Linked DNA regions of Homo sapiens. The protein of the gene in region 2 interacts with the protein of the main gene of each other region in a biochemical or structural test. Each region holds a gene or a part of one and is shown on either strand. Other genes may lie near its edges.

Region 1 (3,500 bases), on a different chromosome or scaffold from region 2:
AAAATGTTTTAGATGTATGAATCAAACTTGGTAGCAAAATAGTGCAAAACTCTAATATGGCAGACCTTAATAGCAGGTAACCATTTGAGATTTGCTACCAAAAATAATTTGTCAACAAGAATCTTTTATATGTCTTTAAAACTTTCCTTTTTCTACTCTACCTAGAATTGTGTTCCACTGCTGTTATAAAAATCTCAAAATATCATATGTATATCATTTAGATAGAAGAGAATTATTTCCTCTTCACTGCCGCCTCCTTTAATTTCAGTTATAATTCCCTTTATAAACATTCTTTTCCTAAGGCACACCATGCCCTATTTATTGCCACAAAGCCACTAAAATCTGTGCCTCAATCTGTCTGCTTCATCAGTATGGTTAAATACAAACCACTTACTAGTGTCTGCTAAAACTTAGTATCATCAAGTCTAGAATGCCATTGGTCTGTTCTACTGGGGCAAAGGCCAAAATACACAAGCATGTGCTCATATGCTCTTTTCCCTACAAACTAACCATATTACCTACTATAACAGTAAAGCTTAATGACATCTCTGGCTACATATAATTCATACCCAATATTATAAAATAAAATGTTAGGCCAGTAAGCTTTCACAATTTTTATTAAATCCTAGTCTAGTTGAACAATATCTGATGTTACAGACATCATCCCATGGTGAACATGTTTAATAAGTGAAAGCAAGTCAGACATCTCATCTAAGTCATTATTTTCTGCAGACTAAGCAATAACTACACAGAACACTATGGGTAAACAAACACCTGCTCAGTTTTCACACAAGCCATGTTGTTTATCAAATTAGATCTGCTAATATTGAATACAGTAGATTCGGTGATTGTAGTTCTCATATAAGTATCTTATTGAGATAACATTTTGACAGTTTCACTGACTTTCCAAATAAGCATACCATAATCAAAGAAAAGAATAAAGAGTGAAGTAAAAACTGAACATGAAGAGATTAAGTTATTAAAGGAAAATGAAGTAAATAAAAAGAGTGAAAAACCATTGGGGGTGGAAGTCAAACAAGCCTAGACATTTGATTGGAAGAGAAAAGATCAAATATGAAGTTCACAAACCAAAAGTTTATAAACTCAATGCAATACAAATCCTTTTTATTGTAAAAGCTGAGTTGAAACTAAAAGATCTATAAAAACTGTTACTTTTGGCCTTAAACAGTACCAACTCTTATGATCAAAAAAGGCCACAACAGTTAAGATTGTATTACTTGATTTTATTTTACACTAGGTGGTGGGCAGACAAAGTAATCCTTAATAAAGTTGACAATTAGCTTCACTCAATATTTTTAATAATGCACATTAAAAAAAAGTATTCATCTTACAAATTCTTCTGCAATCCAAACATACAATAGCTTGGAGAACATTTAGAAAACAAAAGCCAATGTAAAAAGACAGATTAAAACAACTAGAACAGTACAGGTTTTATTTATATGGCTCGAATTTTACAGTTTTCTTACTGCATCATCAATGTCAGAAATCTGTTCCTTCAGCTGGCTCCATTGTTCTGGATTTAAAGAAATACCTAAAACAAAGTTTAAAAATTCAAAGGTGAAAATCTATTTAAGCGTTGAGGATTTTCATACTTCCAACTAGAATACTGTTTTATCAAAATTGCCACTTTAGGCTGGGCGCGGTGGCTCACACCTGTAATCCCAGCACTTTGGGAGGCCAAGGCGGGTGGATCACTTGAGGTCAGGAGTTCAAGACCAGCCTGGCCCAACATGGTGAAACCCCATCTCTACTAAAAATACAAAAATTAGCCGGGCATGGTGGTGGGCACCTGTAATCCCAGCTACTCAAGAGGCTGAGACAGGAGAATTGCTCGAACCTGGGAGGTGGAAGTTACAGTGAGCCAAGATCATGCCACTGCACTCCAGCCTGGGCAAGAGAGCAAGACTCCATCTAAAAAAAAAAAAAAAATTGCCACTTGGACACAATGCTACAATACTGAAAATCATATCTCTTACATTTGTTAATTACATATCATCACAATTTACTGAGCATTATCAATCTCATATCCAGTCTTACTTTCCACAGTGCATCCTGCATAGTACCTATTGTAACCAATGAGAATAAATAAGGGTTTGAAGACACATCTTACTAATACCCGTCAACTATCAGGCTAAAATGGTCAGGTCCAGATTTGGCATGTGATACCCCATTACTATATTTCCAGCTGGTTCCAATATTTGCCCAAAATTTCCACAGGAATTCAAGCCAATTGTGCTGAGTTCTTCCAGAAGCATTCATTTCACTTTGGAAAAATTCCCAGGACGTGATTCATACAGGACTCCTCAGAGAGTATACCCGGGTAACTGCACTCTAGGGTCACCCTATCAGGGTTAAAATTCCAGCCTCACTTTCACTAAGTGTATGACCCTTAAAAAAGAACTACATCACCTTGTAAGCCTTAGTTTCCTCACCAGTAAAATGGCATCTATACGCCAAAGAGTTGTTGTAAATGATTAAGTAACATGAATAATGAACTTAGCATATCACCTAACACATAAATGGTTAAAAAATGTGAGATATGTCTTTCCAGTTTAAGATGTAAAAGTATGAACAGAAATTTTATATTTTCTATATTTTGTACTTTAACGTTCTAGCATTCCAATACCGACGCATATAAACAGAGAAGTAAACAAGAACTGGCAGAAAGTATTCCCAGAAAACTGCTGGAAGGCCATGAAATTGAAAAAAAAGAATAAACAAGAAATATGGCATCGGCCACTCTGGTACGTGAATTACCAATCCAGAAGTGACTTGAAGAAAATATGAAAGCATATAAACACATATAGAGGCTGAGTTTAACCAAAAAAAAAAAAACTGCATGAAGCAAACAAGTGGTACCTTTCAAACTAACAGGCAGGCAGAATAAAACTAAATAAGGAAGCATTTTTCTTTAGCTGAGGGTCAACCTAGAGCAGCAATCCAAATATACAAATTTAGGTTGGCTCACCTTCTCTAGCTGTTTGGTGAATTATACAAAATATGTTTCTACAATGCTAAGAGGCTTGGGACTGGATGAAGCACAAATGGAAGGAAAGCAGAGATCCGCTTGAAGAGTAATGCCCTAAAGAATAGCTTTTAGGAGCTGAATCAAAAGGAAGCATTGTAAACCAAGATTTTCCATTCCTGATTTTACAAGTTCCCAGATAGTGCCTAATCTGCTTCAGAATTGCATAAACCTTTTTAAAAATTGTTCAAGTAAATTAGCAGCCAACTGAAGTGATATTAGGGGTGTTACTTTTCTGGGTTTTATTCCCAAAAGCTGTATTAAGACATCTCATTAAAAAAATGTTAAGTATCATGTCCAAAATAACTACAGAAGATAGAGAATCAATTGAGTAAGACTCTTCCTTGCCCCGTGTGTCCTGCCAACATTTCAAGTAAGCTACTCAGAAAAGTTGTCGTTTAGTCCTAACACTGTAATAAAATTCAAGTAATTAGACCTCACCTTTTCTTCCTGG
Region 2 (3,500 bases):
GCCTATGGATGGATGAGCTGCCACTGAAGTGGGGGTGGGGTGGGGGGGCAAAAGATGGCAGCAGCAGTGGCAGTTCATGGACAGATGTCTTCCCAGAGCCTATGGTCAAAAGGTGTTTAGCATTCTGTGACTCACAGCTCTGTCCCAGCAGCCCTGGTGCCAAGACCACCCCCTCCAGCAAAGCACCCAGGAACACTAGCCTGGCTCCATGGACAAAACACAGGGGGCCAGGCGTGGTGGCTCACGCCTGTAATCCCAGCACTTTGGGAGGCCGAGGTGGGCGGATCACGAAGTCAGGAGATCGAGATCATCCTGGCTAACACAGTGAATCCCTGTCTCTACTAAAAATACAAAAATATTAGCCAGACGAGGTGGCAGGCACCTGTAGTTCCAGCTACTCGGGAGGCTGAGGCAGGAGAATGGTGTGAACCTGGGAGGTGGAGGTTGCAGTGAGCCAAGATCGCGCCACTACACTCCAGCCTGGGGGACAGAGTGAGACTCCATCTCAAAAAAAAACACACACAGGCAACCCATCCAACGAGGAACATAGACACACTACTCTCTAAGGACCAACACAAGCCCTCCAGGGCAGAAGGGGAGAAGAGCAAGGCCCCAACATTTGGCTAGGCCACTGAGGGCAGGGGGATTAAAAACCTCTAAGATTGGCAGGGTGCGGTGACTCACACCTGTAATCCCAGCACTTTGGGAGGCCAAGGCAGGCAGATCACCTGAGGTCAGGAGTTCAGGAGACCAGCTTTGCCAACATGGTGAAACCCCATCTCTACTAAATATACAAAAATTAGCCGGGTGTGGTGGCAGATGCCTGTAGCCCCAGCTACTTGGGAGGCTGAGGCAGGAGAATCACTTGAACCCGGAAGCCGGAGGTTGCAGCGACCTGAGATTGCGCCACTGCACTCCAGCCTGGGCAGCAGAGCAAGACTCCACCTTAAAAAAAAAACAAAAACAAAAACAAAAACCAAAAAACAAAAAAACCCAAGGTCCTGTTATTCAGTAATAGAAAGGAATGAAGCACTGATGTATGCTACAACATGGATAAGCCTTGAACATATTATGCTAAGTGAAAAAAGCCAAGTAACAAACAACTGCATATTCTATTATTCCATTTACATGAAACATCCAGAACAGACAAATCAATCAAGCCAGAAAGTAGATTAGTGGTTGCCAGAGGCTGGAAAGGGATGAGGAAATTGGGGGATCATAGCTAAAGAGTGCTGGATTTCTCTTTAAGGTGATGAAAATGTTCTAAAATGGACTGTAGTGATGTGATGGACGCACAAATCTGTGAATATACTAAAAGCCACTGAACTGTACACTTCAAAGAGGTGAATAGTATGGTACATGAATTACATCTCATTAAAGTTGTTAAAAGAAACACACCCAAGGGCTCAGCACCAGCCAAGGACGCTGAACACTGCTTGAAATGTCCTAGCACAATCCCCAAAGGCCAAGGGGTCCCACTTAAAACTTTCATGAAGGGTGAGGGGAGTGGGAGCAGGGAGGAGACTATAACTTGCTTCAGAGCAATGAGTCCAACCTCCCTCCTCAACACTACCCATTTCATGGAGGGAGAAACCAAGAACCAGAAAAGAGAACTGCCTGAAGACCACAGAAAAGCTTACTGCAGAAACAGGACTCAAATCCACGTTGCCTGGGCAGAGACCCCTTCCTGCTTCCCCACCAGCTAGCTACCCAATTCCAGTTGGGGTAAGAAGAGCCCAAGAAATCAGCAGGTTCCTAGATGCCAAATGAAGGGCCTTTGCTATCAAAGATAGGTTACTAGGAGTGGACAAAGGCTCCTAGGAAGAACCAAGATGACCCTGGGGCAAACTGCCCATTCTGGGCAAGAGGAAGAACCGGCCAAGGTCCAAGGTGTGCAAGGTCAGACACACCTGGGCATGGACAAACTTTTGCAAAATGGGCAGCTGAGGGGGCAAGTAGTTTGCCTAAAGCTATAAAGCAGGTAAGGAGGAGATGCTGAGGTCTGGAGGTGATGAGAGAATTGAGGGATGATGGCTCAAAGCTTGCCTTGCTCCAAAGCCCAAACTCCACACACAACTCTACCTCTCTACACCACTATCCAACAGGCCTCCTGACAGGAAATCCCATCGAGCTTGTTCATTACAACATGGCTGCCCACAAAAAATGGCTGTTCATCAACCCTGAGCCTCACACAAAACAGGCTGCTTGTCCTGCCCACCAAGCTTGGATGGCTGAGAGGGAACAGAGGAGCCAGGAAGAGAGGGGAGAAACCCAGTTCCTCCTCAAAAGACATCCACCATTCTTTGCCACCTCCAGGTCCAGAGAACTTTGGACTGAGTTCCCTAAAATCCCAAAGCTAAACAACACCTCACCAGCATTTTGCCTGGCCAGTGAGGAAACTGAGGCCCAGAGAGCATAGGTAGAACCTACCCTGGTTCATCCAGCAAAGCCTTGAAAGACCCAGAGTTGGAACCCAGGCACCAACTACCGTGCCACACCCAGCTTTTTCCACCACCTCAGTTCACATGCCCCTTCTCAAAGAGCTCTGTGGGGTCTCCAAACTCAGGATGCTTACAGGCCAACCTTTTCATAGAGCAGACTCTCAGCAAGGCAGCCATGCCTGGGAACCCCTGACATCACCACCCACCCAGCACCTGGACCCCAGAGTGCCAAAAAGACTCCTAAAGGAAGTAGGGATACAAGAGAATCAGGACAAAGAGGAAGCCCAAGTAGTCAGAACCCCAGAATCGCCATCTAGACTCCCCCTCAACGACGCCTCTCTTCCCAAGGGATCCAACTGACCTCCAGGCTACAACCACCCCTAGTGACAGTTTAGGACCAAGACTGGGGTGGCAGGAGGAATCTTCCCTCTTCTCATCCCCAAAAGCTCTCAAGTTGGACCAGGTGAGGCAGGGAGAAGAGGATCACCTTCTTTGTCCTAAGAAGTGTGGGGACAGAAAGCCTCTCCTGTCATTGGGAAGGGCAGGTTTCATGAACCCACAAAACTTGATTTTCATATTCTTTTTTTTTTATTAGTAAAGATGAGGTCTCGCTATGTTGCCAAGCAGGTCTTGAACTCCAGGGCTCAAGTGATCCTCCCGCCTCAGCCTCCCGAGTAGCTGGGACTACAGGCATGCGCCACTATGCCCGGCTTACTCTTATGTTCTTATGGGGACAAGTATAAGGGAGGGACTGCAAGGGGCATAAGGAAGTGTTTTTGAGTTACCATGGCAGCATAGGATGTTCTTTCTCTCTGTCCCTGGGACCAGGGATGTATCGCAAGGGAGGGGAGTAAGGAGGTGTTTTTGAATTATCATGGCTGCATAGGATGTTTTTCCTCTGTCCCTAGGACCAGTGATGTATGGCTCCCTGCTTCTAGAGGAGGAAAGAAACTACCCAACCAGAGAGAGAAGAAATAACTGGTCCTGACCCTTGAGTACAAATGGCTTATCGTGCCAGAATTAATGATGGGAGGAAGGGACCAAGAACAAGGAGCTCAA
Region 3 (3,500 bases), on a different chromosome or scaffold from region 2:
CTTGAAAGATCAAACAGAATCCAACTAACTTGACTGCATCCTAGAATAACCTCATCTCTAGTAAAAAAAAATTAGCTGGGTGTGGTAGCACATGCCTGTAGTCCCAGCTACTTGGGATGCTGATGCAGGAAGGTTGCCTGAATCCAAGAGTTTGAGGCTGCAGTGAGCTGTGACTGCACCACTACACTTGAGCCTGGGCAACACAGTGAGACCCTGTCTCAAACAACCACCACCACCACCACTACAAAATATGTAGAAAATATAAAGATAATGGGTGAAGAGCAGAAAAGGATGCTTCAAAAGCTATTGTAAATATGCTCTACATTGACTGGGTGCAGTGGCTTGTGCCTGTAATCCTGGTACGTTGGGAGACCGACGTGGGAGGATCGCTTGAGCCCAGGAGTTTGAGACCAGCCTGGGCAACACTGAAAACAAAAAAGATCTTAGATTTTGATTTTCTTTGTGTTAAGTATGCACAAGCTATTGTTGGGAATTCAAGAAAAAGTGAACAGCTCCGTTATCTAATAGATCTCAAGTTTTCAAGTCCTGGTCTGTAACAACCAAAAGGCAGTCTCACTTTAAGTATATCAGTAGATTTTATGCACAACATACCACATTCAAATTCTATAAAACAGGGCTCATGGGCTAAATGGGAGACTGATGGCAGATTTACTTACTTCAACCATTCCTTGATGGGGTCAAGAGAGGCTACAGGAATGGCGTTGATCATGGTCACTTTCTTGCTGTAGTCCTTGTAGACGATTACCATATCAAAGTTCTTCAGGTGAAACTGGACCCGCTCAAAGTGGATCAGCTCTACCTCATCCAATGTCACCACAAAAGGTGGCTGTCAGGGAGAAACTGAATCATTAGCATATAAGTATTTCCCCCAAAGCAATAATATTTCAAATAACTTTCATGATCTAAATCACTACATAAAAGATAACTTAAGCTGTTTTTTGGTTTTTTTTTTGAAAGACTGAGGCAGTACAACATACTAAGAAGCCACAGAAAAAGGATCTGCAAGATACAAAAATCATCCCTCAAGGAGAATAAACTCAAGGAAACTATGTGAAGGAACCATTTAAAATAAACTATTTAAAAAGACATTATCTTAAAAAATAAAAAATAAAAAAAAGAGAGATAGGTTCTTGCTATGTTGCCCAGACTGGTCTTGAGTTCCTGGCCTCAAGTGTTCCTCCCACCTTGGCCTCTAATTGTGCTGGGATTACAGGTGTGAGCCATTATGCCTGCCCTAAAGAGACTTTAAAAGTAACATTTGTTCAATGAGTTTTAAGTCTAAGTAAATATCAAAAATGAAAATGACAATAATTAGGATAAAAAACACCTATCCTTCTTTATTTTCTCTAACAATTTTCTTACTAAAAGAAAGTAAGAAACACTCACCCATTCCGTAGCATTTACCAGCGCACTACTAGTGGGCTGAAGGAGGCAGGTACTCCTATAGGGAGCTCCGTTAAATCTGGAAGAGACAAACTTTTAAGACTGAGCTCATCACGAGAGAGACTGCTCCTACCACAACAGACAAACTTCTTCCCTCTCCCCATTCCAAACAGCTCCAGCATACTCACTGGAGACTCATCCAGAGGAAGCCTCTTAAGAGTTAGCCACTCACCTAAACCCTTAAACATTTTCAAGAAAAAATGGATGTCTCAAAGATTATTAGTCATAGGAAAAAAGGATATGATATGTTAAATTATTATTAAAGGAAGAATAATTTATTGTACCAAAAGACAGACCAGTCAAACTTCAAGCCAAAAATAAGATAGGTTACCCCAAGTCCCTAAAAGGCACTTCAAATTCCAGTTCCTCCTTAGTTAGAGCCTCTACTTTCTCAATGAAATTTTTAAAGGCTGTTTTCAGTTTGTGCCTCATTTCTCGTTCCATCTGTAGAAGAAAAAAATATCAAATACAGCCATCACATTTGTTAACAGTACCTCCCCTCAAAAAGTCTGAAGTGCTTTTGTGCTTTAAAATAAAAATTCCAACTTTTAAGTTCAGGAGTGCATGGGCAGGATTTGCAGGTTTGTTACACAGGTAAACGTGTGCCATGGTGGTTTGCTGCACAGATCATCCCTGAAGTGCTTTCGTTGCCCTTCATTCTCTCGTAACTATAAAACTAACATGTACATACACCTTTAATATTTAAGGTCACCATGCCATTACCTGTCAAGCTGAGTCTGCAACCTAAGCCTAAACTCTTGTAATACCCTATCTCAGCAGATACTTGAGTTGCTCTGCACAAACAGATTCAGGGTTGTTTATTTATTTATTTATTTATTTTTGGAGATGGAGTCTTGCTAGTCGCCCAGGCTGGAGTGCGGTGGCGCGATCTTGGCCCACAACCTCTGCCTCCCAGGTTCATGCCATTCTCCCGCCTCAGCCTCCCGAGTAGCTGGGACTACAGGAGCCCGCCACTACACCCGGCTAATTTTTTTGTATTTTTAGTAGAGACAGCGTTTCACTGTGTTAGCCAGGATGGTCTTGATCTCCTGACCTCGTGATCTGCCTGTGTTGGCCTCCCAAAGTGCTGGGATTATAGGCGTGAGCCACTGCACCTGGCTATTTATTTATTGAGATGGAGTCTCACTCTGTCGCCCAGGCTGGAGTGCAGTGGCGCTATCTCAGCTCACTGCAACCTCTGCCTCTTGGGTTCAAGTGATTATCCTGCCTTAGCCTCCCGACTAGCTGGGACTACCACCACCCACCACGCCCAGCTAATTTATGTATTTTTAGTACAGACAGGGTTTCACCACATTGGCCAGGCTGGTCTCGAACTCCTGACCCTCAGGTGATCTGCCCATGTTGGCCTCCCAAAGTGCTGGGATTACAGGCGCGAGTCACCACGCCAGCCCAGTTTGTTTATAAAATACAATCCCTGAGCTTGGATTTGGCCTCATCCTCCCTCACTATCCTGCAAATACAATACTAAATTTCACAAACCTGCTCAGCATAGAGGTCATCTCGGTCATGCATATGCTGATGTTTCCCCAAGTCCGTGGTTATCTCTCCCACTTCTGTGTAGAACTGCACATCCGTGTGCCGCTTCTTCCCAAACATGATGGCATTCTGTCGGCATAAAACAGAAAGAACACAGAAGTCAGAAACACAAAGGTATCTGTGATGGAAATGGCAGTGATCCAAACTTGGGCCTCCACAGCATGCATGCAAAAATAATTAAACCACCCCTGGTGTCATCATAAATAATGATGCTTGGGAATGGAAACAGTGTACATTTGAAAAAGTGCTGTGCTCCTACTTATTACAGGAACTTTGGAAATCATGTTGGTAACAAATCTTATCTAAAGCAAAACTTCATTTTAGAAAGAGAAATCTGGAGATCTCGTATAAAACATTTGCTGGCCACCATATAACACACCAAAGGAACAAACATGCTTATGAGCCCCTTCTAGATGCCAGGCCTTGTGGCCTTTAGAGGCATTATTTTATTTAATCCTCTTAAATGTTCTTAAGTGAGA
Region 4 (3,500 bases), on a different chromosome or scaffold from region 2:
CCTGCAGCTTCCAGATGTGCTTGCTCTCCTTGGAGACCTGGCCCACTGTCTCGCCCATGAGGGCAATGAGCATGTTGAGGAGCAGCACAAAGGTGAGGATGATGTAGGTCACCAGCAGGATGATGAAGACCACGGGGTACTTGGTGCTGCTCAGCATCTCCAGGTCGCCCATGCCGATGGTCAGCTTAAACAGGTCCAGGAGGAAGGTGCTGAAGGTCTCGCTGTCACGGCACGAGGGGTAAGTGGGCACTGTGCAGTTGGTCTGGTCCTCATTGCACACCTTCATGTTGGCACACGGGTTCAGGAGGGAGACCAGGGCTGTGGGAGGATAGGGGTGGCACTCACTGAGTGTGAGCACACCCACAGAGAGGTGGAGGGTGTCATTCTCATTTGCTGGAGGAGAAAGCTGAGGCCTAGTGAGCGGAGCACGCTGGCCCACACGCTGACCCATGTCACCCTACACATCAGCCAAGCCACACCAGACCCAGGTCCTCCTGATCCCAAAACCTTTGAAGCCTTTCCATAAACTCTTGCTGATAAGGAAGAGGTTATCTCTCTCTCTCTCTCTTTCTTTCTGAGATGGGGTCTTGCTATGTTGCCCAGGCTGGAGTGCAGTGGCTACTCACAGGCTCAATCCCACTACTGATAAGCGTAGGAGTTTTGACCTGCTCTGTTTCCAACCTGGGACAGTTCACCCCTCCTTACACAACCTGGTGGTTCCCTGCTACCGGGAGGGAAAAGGTTTTCAGGATCTAGTCCAGGGAGGGTCTCAGTTTTTCCCACCAGGGGACATTTGACAATGTCTAGAGACATATTTGGTTGTTACAACTGGGGGTGGGGGTGCTACTGGCATCAGGTGGGTGGAGGCCAGGGGTGCTGCCTGACACCCTACAATGCACAGGATGGTCCCCGCCACGAAGAATGATCTGGTCTCAAATGTCAATAGTGTTGGGAAATCCTAATGCGGCCTACCATTCTTAGAGGTCTTGGGGGCTCTGGAATGCCCCTATTCGCAGGGGTAGACTCTCTCTCTGACAGTTTCCCACTCCACCCCAACCCAGAGAGGAAAAGTGGGGGCTGAAACCAGGCATCAGTCCTGACTGTCCCCAAAGCCGTGTTCTCTAAGGGGCCTCTCCTGCTCTAGACATCTCAAACTCATCATGGTTCTCCTTTCCTACTAAGCCCAGGTGGAGCTTCAGATTCCTTCTCAACACAGTTTGGCAGCAACAACCTGTCCCTAAACCAGCCAGGGAGGGGAGCATGAAGAAGACTCAGTCCCATCAGTCAGTGGGGCACAGAATGTCATACTGCCTGCAACCAGGGATTAGAGTATGCAGATTTCAACTCATATGCTAATGTTCTTCAGTTGTATAGTACCTGGTGAAACACTGTGTTGAGAAGGATTCTGAGACCTTGTCTGGACTCACCGGAAAAACTGTTCTGTGATCCATTAGTGATGTCTGCTATGGACACCAAAGTGTGGGAACAGAAGCATGTGTGTCCTGTTTATGTCATGTCAGCCTCAGAATTGAGATCTAGTGCATCCTATAAGGAGAAGACCTGCAACCAAGCTGACTGCTAAGCTGCTACTCTAACCCTTGTTTCTCCTTAGTTTCAATAACTAGGACTGCAGTAGGGCTAGATCCCTGACCTGAATCCCAAACTGTTGTTGAACCCTTGACACTGTCTAGTTTGTCCAGTGTGATCCCTGGGAAGGGAAAGCTGTACCCTGTCCCTATCTCCCCAGTGAAAACTACAATTCCACTTCCCACCAATAATCTACCTAGAGACTTGGCCACTATCGTGGGTTAAAATATCACCCTTGTCAGATTCCTGTGCCAGGCTCGTCCCCAGATGAACCTGCTCAGATGTGTATGTGTCCAGGTCTAACCTGAGTTGGCCATTCCCCTTTGGATGCTGGGCATTGATGTCAGATTACCCACACCTCGGGGATCAGCCCAAGGACTTGGTCAGTTTCTCCAGCCCTGGTCCCTGGTCCTTCTCCCATGACCCATGCCACTGAGGTCCCAGAATGCTTCTTAGTGGCATCATGACATCACGAAGAAGGTATATCAAGGGAGCTGATGTTGGGCTTTAAGAAAATACCTGGGCTGCTAGTTTAATTATTAAATTTTATCCTTCCATGTATCCATCCTCCTTCAATGTGGCTTTACAGCTTCTCCCACTAAGAAGTGGAGTCTAGGCCAGGTGCAGTGGCTCGCGCCTATAATCCTGCACTTTGGGAGGCTGAGGCAGGAGGACTGCTTGAGCCCAGGAGTTCAAGACCAGCCTGGGCAACATAGCAAGACCCTGCCTCCACCAAAAAAAAAAAATGGAAAAAAAGAAGTGGCGTCTATTTCCCCATCCCTTGAATCGAGGCTGGCCTTGTGACTTGCTTTGGCCAACAGAGTAAGGCAGCAGTGATGCCATGCCAGGAGGTGTCCTTGAACACTTCTGCTCATGTTCTTGGAACCCTAAGGCCACCATGTGGACAAGCCCAAGCTAGCTGTCCAGAAATGAGTGACCATGTGGAAGATAGATAGCAAACCCCCTCTAACCAAGTCCATACTAGCTAGACCAGTCAGCCAGCAGCCAGCCTGCCAGCTGACCACAGGCACAAGAGCCTGTAGGGATCAGCCAAACCTGGCCCAGGGCAGCACAGCCACCCAGCTGACCCATTGACTCATAAGCAATAGTAAGTTGGCCTGGTACAGTGGCTCACGCCTGTAATCCCAGCACTTTGGGAGGCCAAGGTGGGTGGATCACTTGGGGTCAGGAGTTCGAGACCAGCCTGGCCAACATAGTGAAACCCCATCTCTACCAAAAATATAAAACTTAGCCATGCGTGGTGGCACACGCCTGTAATCCCAGCTATTCGAGAGGCTGAGGCAAGAGAATCGCTTGAACCCAGGAGGCAGAGATTGCAGTGAGCCAAGAGCACCACTGCCCTCCAGCCTTGGTGACAGAGTGAGACCTTGCCACAAAAAAAATAATAATAATAAGTGGGTGCTATTTTAAGCCCCACTTTAGGTGGCTTCCTTTGTAGCAATAGCTAATACTCCAGTTTTGCCATTCACCAGCTTTTTTTTTTTTTTTTTTTTTGAGACAGAGTCTCGCTGTGTTGCCCAGGCTGGAGTGCAGTGGTGCCATCTTGGCTTACTGCAACCTCCACCCCCTGGGTTCAAGCGATTCTTGTGCCTCAGCCTCCCGAGTAGCTGGGTCTATAGTTGCGCGCCACCATGCCTGTCTAATTTTTGTATTTTTTGGTAGAGACGGGGTTTTGCCATGTTGGCCAGGCTGGTCTCAAACTCCTGACCTCAAGTGATCTACCCGCCTCAGCCTCCTGAAGTGCTGGGATTACAGATGTGAGCCACTGCGCCCGGCCACCATTCACTGGCTTTTGAACTTGTGCTAGTTATTTAACCCTCCTAAGCCTCAGTTTCCTTTTCTATAATAGGGGATAATAAAGGCACTTAGCTTACAGGCTTGTTGGGAGGCAA

What was found.
Region 1: the proteins of OTUD5 (region 2) and SUB1 form a complex in vitro, tested with the Homo sapiens proteins (one large-scale study listed by BioGRID).
Region 3: the proteins of OTUD5 (region 2) and SUPT16H form a complex in vitro, tested with the Homo sapiens proteins (one study listed by BioGRID).
Region 4: the proteins of OTUD5 (region 2) and TRPV4 interact in a test that uses a peptide from one of them, tested with the Homo sapiens proteins (one large-scale study listed by BioGRID).

The regions. Positions count from the first base shown.
Region 1 is NC_000005.10:32,599,057-32,602,556, reverse strand, and holds part of SUB1 (activated RNA polymerase II transcriptional coactivator p15), read right to left. Parts: coding exon 3,488-3,500; intron 1,553-3,487; coding exon 1,473-1,552; 3' UTR 1-1,472.
Region 2 is NC_000023.11:48,951,108-48,954,607, forward strand, and holds part of OTUD5 (OTU domain-containing protein 5), read right to left. Parts: intron 1-3,500. UniProt on the Homo sapiens protein: Deubiquitinating enzyme that functions as a negative regulator of the innate immune system. Has peptidase activity towards 'Lys-48'- and 'Lys-63'-linked polyubiquitin chains. Can also cleave 'Lys-11'-linked ubiquitin chains (in vitro).
Region 3 is NC_000014.9:21,356,520-21,360,019, forward strand, and holds part of SUPT16H (FACT complex subunit SPT16), read right to left. Parts: intron 3,091-3,500; coding exon 2,965-3,090; intron 1,909-2,964; coding exon 1,796-1,908; intron 1,484-1,795; coding exon 1,408-1,483; intron 848-1,407; coding exon 678-847; intron 1-677. UniProt on the Homo sapiens protein: Component of the FACT complex, a general chromatin factor that acts to reorganize nucleosomes. The FACT complex is involved in multiple processes that require DNA as a template such as mRNA elongation, DNA replication and DNA repair.
Region 4 is NC_000012.12:109,788,399-109,791,898, forward strand, and holds part of TRPV4 (transient receptor potential cation channel subfamily V member 4), read right to left. Parts: intron 345-3,500; coding exon of another isoform or gene 319-344; coding exon 2-318; intron 1-1. UniProt on the Homo sapiens protein: Non-selective calcium permeant cation channel involved in osmotic sensitivity and mechanosensitivity. Activation by exposure to hypotonicity within the physiological range exhibits an outward rectification.